Regions from separate parts of the Homo sapiens genome. Here region 2 is linked to region 1. Evidence: fine-mapped expression QTL. A gene starts in region 1. The other region holds a variant in brackets. All regions are shown on one strand. Distances are between the middles of the regions.

Region 1 (5,377 bases):
GTCTCAAACACCTAACATTTGTTCAAATATTTGTCCAAAGTAAGATCATAATTTTTTCCTATATAATTCCTTACTTCCTTTTTTGTACATACATAGGTGAAAAAGGACTGAAGGAGGGGAGCCGTCAGAAAAGAGGTGCAACTACCCTGTGGCCACTATACTGTGAGAAGGCTGACCTAGCCAAGTGGAAAGGGCACCTCGCGGAGAACTGAAGTCCTGGCCAACAGCCAGGACCTATGCCACCCACATAAGTGACATCATTTCGGACTTCCCCAACTGAAACCACATTAAGCAGAAGCACCACCCAGTCTACTCACAGATTTGTGGGAAATCAAATGCTGTTGGTTTAAGCCATTGAGTTTTGGGGTGGTTAGATAACTGAAGCAGCTAGAAAATAGCTTTCCAGTCAGACCAAATACCACATCTATGAATGACAAGCACCATCATGGCAACTAAACATTGTTTATCCGTTGTATCAACGGAAATGATACAACTCCTTCAATCTGAGCATGCCCATCGGCTGAAACATTCAGCTGGGTAAACCTGGATCTATACTGTACCAGGCTCAACAGTGTTAAATAACTACTAATAATGATCACATGAATAACGGTAACAGCAGCCATTATTTACCAACTGTTTATTACATACTAGGCATTGTGCTAAATCCTTTATTCATTTAATCCCTTATAAAAGCCTTTTGAGGTGGGCCACTATAATGCCCATTTTACTGATGAGGTCGCTGAGGCATAGAGTGGTACAGCGACTTGCCTGGGATCACACTGACAGTAAACAGTGATACGGGATTTCACTCTTGGCCATCTGATTCCACAGACACCGGGCTCTTAACTATCAGCTTGCTTTACCCCTTCAAAAGTGTTATGCTACTTTAACAAAACTGCCCCTTGTTGGTTTGTTTTGTTTTGTTTTGTTTTTTTGAGACGGAGTCACTCTGTCGCCCAGGCTGGAGTGCAGTGGCGTTCACTGCAACCTCTGCCTCCCAGGTTCAAGCAATTCTCCTGCCTCAGCCTCCCGGGCAGCTAAGATTAGAGACGCGCGCCACCAAGCCCGGCTAATTTTTGTATTTTTAGTAGAGACAGGGTTTCACCATGTTGGCCAGGCTGGACTCAAGTGATCTGCCCGTCTCTGCCTCCCAAAGTGCGGGGATTACAGGCCTGAGCCACCGCACCCAGCCGAAACTGCGCCTTCTGAGTTAATGTGTGTAAAGAGTTTAAGACTGGGCCGGGCGTGGTGGCTCACGCCAGTAATCCCAACACTTTGGGAGGCCGAGGTGGGCGGATCACGAGGTCAGGAGATCGAGACCATCCTGGCTAACAGAGTGAAACCCCTTCTCTACTAAAAATACAAAAAATTAGCCGGGAGTGGTGGCGGGCGCCTATAGTCCCAGCTACTTGGGAGGCTGAGGCAGGAAAATGGCGTGAACCCAGGAGGTGGAGCTTGCAGTGAGCCGAGATCGTGCCACTGTACTCCAGCCTGGGCTACAGAGCAAGACTACGTCTCAAAAAAAAAAAAAAAAAAAAAAGAGTTTAACGCTGTCTGGTCCATGGTAAGTTTTCAGTAAACACCAACTCTTACTATTAGGAAACCTGAAGATGTGGAATGAAAGATGAGAGGAAGTACTGTATATGACTGGCGTACAGTACGCCCCCAATTAATGTTAGCTATTTGGATGATTTATATAGGGCTTCTTCACCAGCAAGCACTCCGGTGCTCGGTAATTTTCTGTTTACAAGTAGGCTCTCCCCACACCCTGTGAGCTCCCTGCGTGTAGAGCTGTTTTCAACACATCCTTGCAGGTTCGGAGCCCAACACGTGGCCCCCAGAGCAAATAGCTGCTCAGTAAGTTTCTTGACAGGAGAGAAAACGCTTCCTTCCTTCACCAGAAATGCGAACTTGGATTTCTAAGATGACACCTCCCCCAGCTACCAGCCCTTAACATGATTCCAAAAAAGAGGGCAAGAAGGGACAAGGGTCCCACCCAAGAAATGCGGGGGCCAATGGGCTCCATGGGATAAGAGATGGAGCCGGGCTTGTGGCCAGGACACTTGAGAAGTCCGTGCAACTCCGTGACCGGCCACACCGAGAGGGGGACCTCCCAAACCCCCCAGCAGTCCTAAAAAGTCCCTAGGAAAAGGGCAAGGCCCTGAGAGGGAAGTCACCCACCTCCCAGGTGGCGGACCCCCCGCCCGCCCAGGGTCGACTAGGACTTGGGACTACCCCCTCCGCCCATCCCACGGCAGCTGCAGGCGCAGGAAGAAAAGAAGTGACAGGGAGTCCAAAGTTTCCCCAACAACAAAAATCCTTCCCCCGAGGGAAGGGAAGGGCTCCCACCCTCAGCCCGCCCCGCCCAGGGAGGAGGGACCGCCACCAGTGGATCTAGGCAGTTGGGGGTCCCGCTGTTCTGGTCCCGACAAGGAGTGCCTGGCTTGAGGTTCCCCCGCCCCGCGCTTCGTGCACTCTGAATTCTTTGAGAGGGTCCCAGGGAGGGACAGGGGTGCCCCAACTCTTACTTACAGTCGTCTAAGTCATCCTGCAAGTCCACAAAGTACAGGGGGATCTCTGAAAACCAAGAAACACACAAGAAGTTACCAGGGGGCTGCGGCGAGAGGGGACGGGGTCGGGCAGGGGCCCCTCGGCCTCGCGGGGTGGTCACGGGGCGAGAGAGAGAGGGGCACCCCTGGCATCCCCCGAGCCCAGCCCCACTCACCCGCCATCTTGGGATGGGCATGGAGGCGGGACCGGCAGGGGCGGGGCCCTGCAGACAGGGGCGGGGCCCTGCAGACAGGGGCGGGGCCCTGCAGACAGGGGCGGGGCCCTGCAGACAGGGGCGGGGCCCTGCAGACAGGGGCGGGGCCCTGCAGACAGGGGCGGGGCCCTGCAGACAGGGGCGGGGCCCTGCAGACAGGGGCGGGGCCGTCGGCTTCGGGCCCCGCCCCCGATCCGCGCCGGCCGGCCGGCCCCGCCCTCTCAGCGAAGGTGGCTGCCGAGGTGGGCGGGGAGGTCAGGTGACGCGGCCGGCGTCCCAAGATGGCGGCGGCGGCGGCTCCCGGAAGGCCGCGGCGGCGTCCCGGCTGCTAAGGCGGGCCCCACGCGGCTGGCAGCGGACAGGCCGGACCTACGGCCGGAGGACGGGCGGCAGCCGCCTCTGCGCGGACCGGGGCTGGGCCGTGCGGCGGCAGCGGCGCCAGGGGATGCTCTTGCTGGGCCTGGCCTCTCCCTTCTCAACTTAGGGCGGCGGCGGGCCCGCGCCCCTGGCTCCCGGGCCATGGCGCTGAGGGAGCTCAAAGTGTGTCTGCTCGGGGTGAGTGGCGGCGGGTCCGGCCGGGAGGGCCACGGGAGGCTGGGCTGGCGGGGACCCCGGATCCCCCCTGTCCCCTCATCCCTTCCCCCCTCCCACGTCCAAGACGCTGTCTGCCAGCCCCGTGGACCCTCCCTCCAGCTCGGGAGCCGTCCCGCCCACCTCTTGCACTCTCGAAAAGGTCCTGGAGGCCGAAGGGACCCTTCCCCTTCCCCTCCCTGGAGCCCGTGGACTCTTCCCGCCCCACAAAGAGCAAACAGCCCCCCCTTGCCTCTCTATTGCATCTGGGTTAAGAGAGGTTCTTAAATAGTTTTCTCCCAACTTACCAAGGTATTAGTTGGGAGTTGGCCAAGTCTTCCAAAGTAAAACCAATAACAGGTCTTTAGGTTTTACAAGCAGCATTAGCCTACTTTGTCTCTTGGGTGTTTTTGAACTTGTGGGATACCCCTGCCACTTGTCCAAAGAGTTACTTTGCCAAGTAACTCTTCCTGTGGAGAAAAGGGGTGTTCAAATCAGGAAGCCCCAAAGACTAGTTTGAAGCTTCAGCTTCCTGTCTTGTCAGGAAAGACAAGGTGTTGGCCATTTCAAAGCCTTCTTTCTGAAATTGATGCTGTCATTCCAGAGTTTCTGCCTTAAAGATCGGCAGGAACTCCAATAACTAATCTTTATTCCCCCAAATAGGGTGGGGCTAGGATTCATCAGGGATTACTCAGAGGTAACTCAGGAGTTCAAAGTTTACTAACATATGTTAAAAAGCAAGTGGACTTGTTACTTTTTACACGAAGCAGAAACTTTGGGTCTCTCAAAAGGTCCTAATCTGTCTTAACGGCAAAAACCTCTCCCTTTTAGTACAGTTGGAATTTCCTAATTACTCTACTGAATTTTTATGACAACCGCTTTTGTGTTCCTCCGTTTATAAAATTTACACGTCTAGGGTGATTTTTCTAAAATCCTGAACTTATGCCACAAAGTAGTTTTTGGTGTCTGCCAAAAGGTAAACTTTTTCTCAGTCCCTCATCTCGTTCTCTTTCAGGATACAGGTGTAGGTAAATCGAGTATTGTGTGGCGGTTTGTGGAAGACAGTTTTGATCCAAACATCAACCCAACAATAGGGTAAGAGACTTTTATTTGATACACATCTAAAGGTGCATTGAAAATCCTTCCAAATACATAGTGTGTTACAGGTGTAGGCCCTGCGCTTTGTAGTCATTGAATTCTGAGTCGCTGGTTCGCATCATCTCTGGAAGGACTTGAAAGAGTCCAGTGAGGATCTGTGTATTTTAGGAAAATTATCTTCGGACTTGTTGGGGGTGAGAACTTCAAAATGCAAATATGAATTGGAGTTCTACTAATTATTAGAACAGACACAGAAGCTTCGGTCTATAAATATCAACAGCAATTACACCTTGAAATAAGGCAGATGAAAATAGATCCTGGTGCTATTCTTTCAGGCATATCAAGTAAAAGACATTTAAATGGTTTTTGTCCTTCCTGAAAGTAGTAGGTTGAGATCTGAACCCTTACACATTCCTGTACTGGTAGTAATAATAAATTAATAAATTCATATTGAAATGGAAGGTTTTTTCAGTTCTCTGGTTCTATGGATAAGTAAAGTTGATTGTTCATATGTTTTTGACGCTATAAGAAAACTTTTCATTTTGCAATACTAATCCTTTGACTACATAAGAAGTTGTGTTTTATAGGCTTTAATATTATGTTAACCTTATAAAACTAAATAGGTGCTGTGCTCTAGTTTTAATCATCAAACCCTCAAATGGTTTCCAGCATTTAAAGAAAAAATCTATGTTATCCATCATTAGGATAAAATTGGCCTTTGTGCTCCATGCAGATCATTCTTTGACTAATAGAGAAATATTTTACAGCCCAGGAGAGAAACTGCCATAAGATTGTCCCCTGAGAAATTATGAGCTCCTGCTGTCAGAGGTTATTTATGGATTTTTTTGAGACAGAGTTTCGCTCTTTTTGCCCAGGCTGCGGTGCAATGGCGCAATCTTGGCTCACTGCAACCTCTGCCTCCCGGGTTCAAGCGATTCTCCTGCC
Region 2 (5,377 bases), 59 kb after region 1:
ATTGTCAAGGAAACCCCTCAGCATCTAACGTCATCTTGTAGAAGAGCTGGGCATACCTCTTCCTCTAGGCCAATTCAGAGGCCACTGGCCACCCAAGTAGAGTGGGGCCCACTGGCATGAGTAGTCCCTGTGCCCATGCCCATGGTGGTGCTTGACTTTGCTTTGGGGCTTAATCCTAGTATCATTTGGCCATTAATTTTTAATTAAGTTTATACTTGAATAATCAGTTTTACTCCTGAAAAATTTTGAAGCCAGCACTGACTTTGTTTATATTCACTTACCTTGTATATGAACTTATGACATTAGAGTTTGTGAAACTGTCTTAACGTGGCTCATACACGTGATGTCAGAGGGACTGGTCAGTTCTTTACAGGGTGAATTAATCGGCAGCTGGCTAGTCAGAGCAACTGATGGGTGGCTTTTTTTTCTTTTTTTTTTTGAGACGGAGTCTCGCTCTGTCACCCAGGCTGGAGTGTAAGGGCGCGATCTCGGCTCACTGCAACCTCCGCCTCCCAGGTTCAAGCAATTCTCCTGCCTCAGCCACCTGAATAGCTAGGATTACAGGCGCCCGCCCCCACACCCGGCTAATATTTTTTGTATTTTTAGTAGAGACAGGGTTTCACCGTGTTGATCAGGCTGGTCTCGAACTCCTGACCTCACGATCCGCCCGCCTCGGCCTCCCAAAGTGCTGGGATTACAGGCGTGAGTGGTGGCCCTATTTTTAAACCATTCGTTACGCTGTGTAGACAGAGCTTTATTGCCCTGGAAAAGATTTTTTTTTTAACTCTCATGCAGTTCAGTCTTTCCATCATTTCACTTTGTGAGTCACTCACATAATTGTCAATCATTCCTCTGACCTTCTTAAGAATTTACACCTTACCGTCTCTGTGATTGAAGCAGACTTCTCGCTTTATTTCCCTTAGGCTCATTTTTCTGTGGGCTCTCCCTTAAAGACACATGGCCACAGACACCTCCTTCGCATATGTAATCTGCCTTCCCCTGCGGCCTTCCGTGGTCACAGCAACAGGGACTGCTCACCCCCTCCAGCTGGGGCTTTTCTAACAAGCACAGTCAGAAATGCGCAGGCCTGGGGTTGGGGATGAACAGAAGTTGATTAGTGGGCACAGAAATACAGTTAGATAGAAGGAATAGTTCCAGCATTCGATATTACAGTAGGGAGACTGCATTTAACAATAATTGATTGTATATTTGAAAACAGCTAGAAGAATAAGAATATTCCCAACACAAAGAAAAGATAAGCGAGGTGAAGGAAATCCCAGTTACCCTCATTCAGTCCATTACACATTCGATACAGGTATCAAAATATCATAGGCACCTCAAAGACATGTACAACTCTTAATTTAACATTTTTGAAAGAAAAAAAAACCGGCCAGAGCATTAAAACAAATAAAATAAGAAACACAGAGGCCAGTGTTAGGTGAAGAACTCCGCTGCTTCAGAAAGAGAATAGCAGCGCTCGCTTACCGTGGGAACACGGCCAGTTAACAAAATGGGTTTTGGTTTTTTGTTTTGTTTTGTTTTACCATTGGTAATAAGATAGTTAACATAAGTGGTCAGAACTTCGCTGAATTTGTAATAAAGCATTTGTTAAGCGTGTAAAAGTCCAAATTAAAAGTCTTGAAGAAAAACAGCTATGGCAATGAGCCTAGACATTTTTCAAAAAAAAAAGCTAAGCCGTCCTACCAGCAATCTCTCTTTCTCCTAAGAATGTCATGCCTTCTCAAGACCTGATGAAAGGAATAAGATATTTGTGCCTTTTTATAAAAGCATCTATTACGAAAGTAAAATTCAGTTGCTTACAGTTTTGGCCGCTTTGTAGCACTATTATAAACAGCCCAAATTTATGGCCTTGGACTTACTGCATGACACATGGCCTGGTTACCTGTCATGGAATGCTGCAGTGGTGGTTTGCCAAGCTTCTGTGGATGTTTGAAGACTTTATTTTTGCAGTCTTAACCTTGGGCTGGACCTAAGTGTATGTAAACCATATGATGCCTGTATTGTTTATAGATGCTGACAAAAGAAAACTAGACCTTTTGTTTTTTGTTGTAAGATTTTTGTTTTCATGCCTATGCTCATAGTAGATAGTTTGCAAATGAAAGTTGATTTGCCATACTTTTAAATAATATTGTTTTAGCTTGAATATTCTATAATACACTTTTATAGAGTATAACATGCTAAATCACTGTTTTGTTGTAAGAA[G/A]GGTGTAAACATTTTGTTAATAAAATGCTATGTTTACAAATATATATTTGCCTCCCAAATGGTTTCTCTTTGTGATATTACTCATCATATGTTCTTCTTAACCAAATACTCTGAAGTCATTTTTAAATGACCTTTGGATACTGAAGTACCAGAATTTTGACAGCTGTAGTGTCTGGTGAGCAGCAAGTTATTTGTACCAAGGTATCTGAAGCTTCCCAGCTTCCCATATCCTTATCTTATACAACTCCTCCCTCTCCTTGCTCTTCAGTAGTTAAGATGGGGGTTCTAGAAGCAGGTCAGCAAGGCCACCAGTGAGCACTTAGAGGGAAGTTTGCTGCCCCTGGAAGAAAGGAACGGTGCAGTGCCCTAGATTGTGGAAGAAAAGGTCTTCCCTCATCTTCCATTATTATGGGGATTTCATCAAAGATGCTAGTCTTTCCATCCCAGTGTTGACTTGAACCCTGCACCCCCAGTACTCTTCATTGCCAGCAGAAGCACTGGCTCACACACACCCGTGCTCTCTTTGCTGTTCCTCTTAGGTAGAAGCACATTTGCCTGTACAGTGTAGGTGTGCCAAAGAGTACCTACAAGTTCAAGTGAGGGAACCAGAGAGAGCAGAGAGGGCTTGAGACAAACAGGCTTGGATTTGAGTCTCATCAGAGCATCTTTCCAAGCTATGTGGCCCTAGACAAGGCCCTTAACCTCTCTGACCTGTGTTTCTTTTATCTTCACAAAGGGAAGGTAATAAGAGCTTATCCCATGTGGCTGTTCGGGTGGGATGCCTGTAGCTGTCGTTTAACACGGCATTAACAAAGCACAAACATCTCACAGGGTTTATTTCTGTAAGCCATCTCCCTGATAATCACTTTCTGATTCAGTTAAAATAACTTTGCTATAAGTCTGCTGGTTTGCTGTTTTGTTTTTTCTATGTTTTTAAGTATAAAACCTACAAAAAATGTCATGAATCTTGGGTACAGCTCAATTAAATTTCACGAAGGTTACCCACATAACCAACCCTCAGATCACAAAGTGGGACATCTGCCACACCTCAGGTGCCCCACCTTGTGCTCCTTCTCTAACATCACTGATGAGTTTTGTCTGGTTTCAACTTTATATACATACCATGTGGTTCCATATGGGTCTGGCTTCTTTCATCCAACATGGTATGTCGTATTCTCATTCATTCTCACTGCTATGTAGGATTCCACTATGTGAATAAACCACCATTTATTTATCTAGTCTATATTGATAGGCATTGGATTATTTCCAGATTTTTGCCATTATGAATGGACCACAGTGAACCTTACATACATCTCTGGTGTAAAGGCTTGTACAGGTTTCTCTTGGGCATGTGCCCGGGAGTGGAATTACTGGGTCATGAGAAATACACACACACACACACACACACATTCTCAATGTCTGTATTTGTTTTTGCTTTTGTAGATAGTTTTCTAAAATGGTGTATTTAGCTGGGCATGGTGGCTCATGCCTGTAATCCCAACACTTTGGGAGGCCGAGGTGGGTAGATCACTTGAGGTCAGGAGTTTGAGACCAGCGTGGCCAACATGGCAAAACCCCGACTCTACTAAAAATATAAAAATTAGCTAAGCATGGTGCCAGGTTCCTGTAATCCCAGGTACTTGGGAGGCTGAGGCAGGAGAAACACTTGAACCCGGGAGGCGGAGGTTGCAGTGAGCCGAGATCACACCGTTGCACTCCAGTCTGGGCAACAAGAGCAAAAGTCCATCTCTAAAACTAAAGTGGAATATCAATATAGCTCCCCCCAGCAGTGTGCAAGAATTCTAGTTGCACAGCATCCTTGCTAACACTTGATATTATTATTTTCTGCTTTTAAAGTCTGGAGATCTGCAGTCCAAGCTGTTAACAGAACTTACCTCTGAGAAGAGAGGCTTGGCCCACAGAACTGTCACCTGGTTTTCACTTTCTCCTGTATATGTACTTCTGTACTTTTAAAATTTTTACCCTGAGTATGTGTGGAATTTTTTTTTTTTGAGACGGAGTCTTGCTCTGTCGCCCAGGCTGGAGTGGCACAATCGTGGCTCACTGCAAGCTCCGCCTCCCGGGTTCACGCCATTCTCCTGCCTCAGCCTCCCAAGTAGCTGGGACTACAGGCGCCTGCCACCATGCCTGGCTAATTTTTTGTATTTTTAGTAGAGACAGTGTTTCACTGTATTATAAAGTTTCACTGTGTTAGCCAGGATGGTCTCGATCTCCTGACCTTGTGATCCGCCCACCTTGACCTCCCAAAGTGCTGGGATTACAGGTATGAGGCACCGCGCCTGGCTGGATTTTTTCTTATTAGAAAAAAAAAAATCAGGAACTCTCACACTCTAATCCTGTCTTCAAATCCTTAGTGAAAATTGGCTCAATACATACACTGAAGTTGAATTTGTCTTATTTTTCTCCTTTTAAACACACACACACACCCTATTCAATTTGGTCAGTAAAAACCTTAGAGCCAGATTTGGGGCAAGTGTGCAAAACTTTATAGCACCGCTTCATTTCATTCTGAAATTTAATACATATCTTTTCAAGCTGCCCTAAATCCTCTTGGACAATAGGGGATAGAGGGAGCATAAATAATACCCGTTAAGAAGGAGAATATGCAGGTGCCTCTCACTTGGGGAAAAAAGAGGAGAATATTAGTCTACACCCTGTCAAGATAGTACTATGGCAGAAGCCAGTCCCATTTGTTGTTGCCAAGAAAAAGGGAATCACAGCCGGGCACAGTGGCTCACGCCTGTAATCCCAGCACTTTGGGAGGCCGAGGCAGGTGGATCACCTGAGGTCAGGAGTTCGAGACCAGCCTGGCCAACATGGTGAAACCCCGTCTCTACTAAAAATACAAAAAAAATTAGCCTGGCATGGTGGCAGGCACCTGTAATCCCAGCTACTTGGGAGGCTGAGGCAGACGAATCGCTTGAACCCAGGAGGTGGAGGTTGCAGTGAGCCGAGATCGCACCATTGCACTCCAGCCTGGGGACAAGAGCGAGACTTCATCTCAAAAAAAAAAAAGAAAAAAGAAAAAGGGAATCACTACACCAAAAAGGAAGACACAAATTAGCACACACCCAAAACAAACAGGGATGTTTTAAATGCTTACACAAAACAGCCTTGCTTTATTTTTCCACAA

Which allele goes with the higher level. Alleles are on the strand shown, and positions count from the first base shown. SD is a standard deviation of normalised expression in the study named.
For the expression in skeletal muscle of the gene that starts at base 3,022 in region 1, allele A in region 2 goes with a lower level than allele G (small effect, 0.16 SD a copy in GTEx).

Evidence for each region. PIP is the estimated chance that this variant, and not a neighbour inherited with it, causes the effect.
Region 2: its variant is the best candidate, but not a certain one, in a credible set for the expression of RAB22A in skeletal muscle (GTEx, PIP 0.55).

Annotation. Positions count from the first base shown.
Region 1 is chr20:58,306,694-58,312,070 of GRCh38, forward strand. It overlaps RAB22A (RAB22A, member RAS oncogene family), which reads left to right and starts at 3,022. Exons shown (of 7, transcript NM_020673.3): 1 at 3,022-3,319; 2 at 4,350-4,429. The coding sequence starts at 3,284. It also overlaps the pseudogene PPP4R1L. RefSeq lists silencers at 2,491-3,050, 3,091-3,420.
Region 2 is chr20:58,365,241-58,370,617 of GRCh38, forward strand. It overlaps RAB22A (RAB22A, member RAS oncogene family), which reads left to right. Exons shown (of 7, transcript NM_020673.3): 7 at 1-2,267. Among named protein-coding and RNA genes, the nearest start is that of VAPB, 21 kb to the right of the region's middle. The variant G/A (reference allele first, on the strand shown) is at 2,224.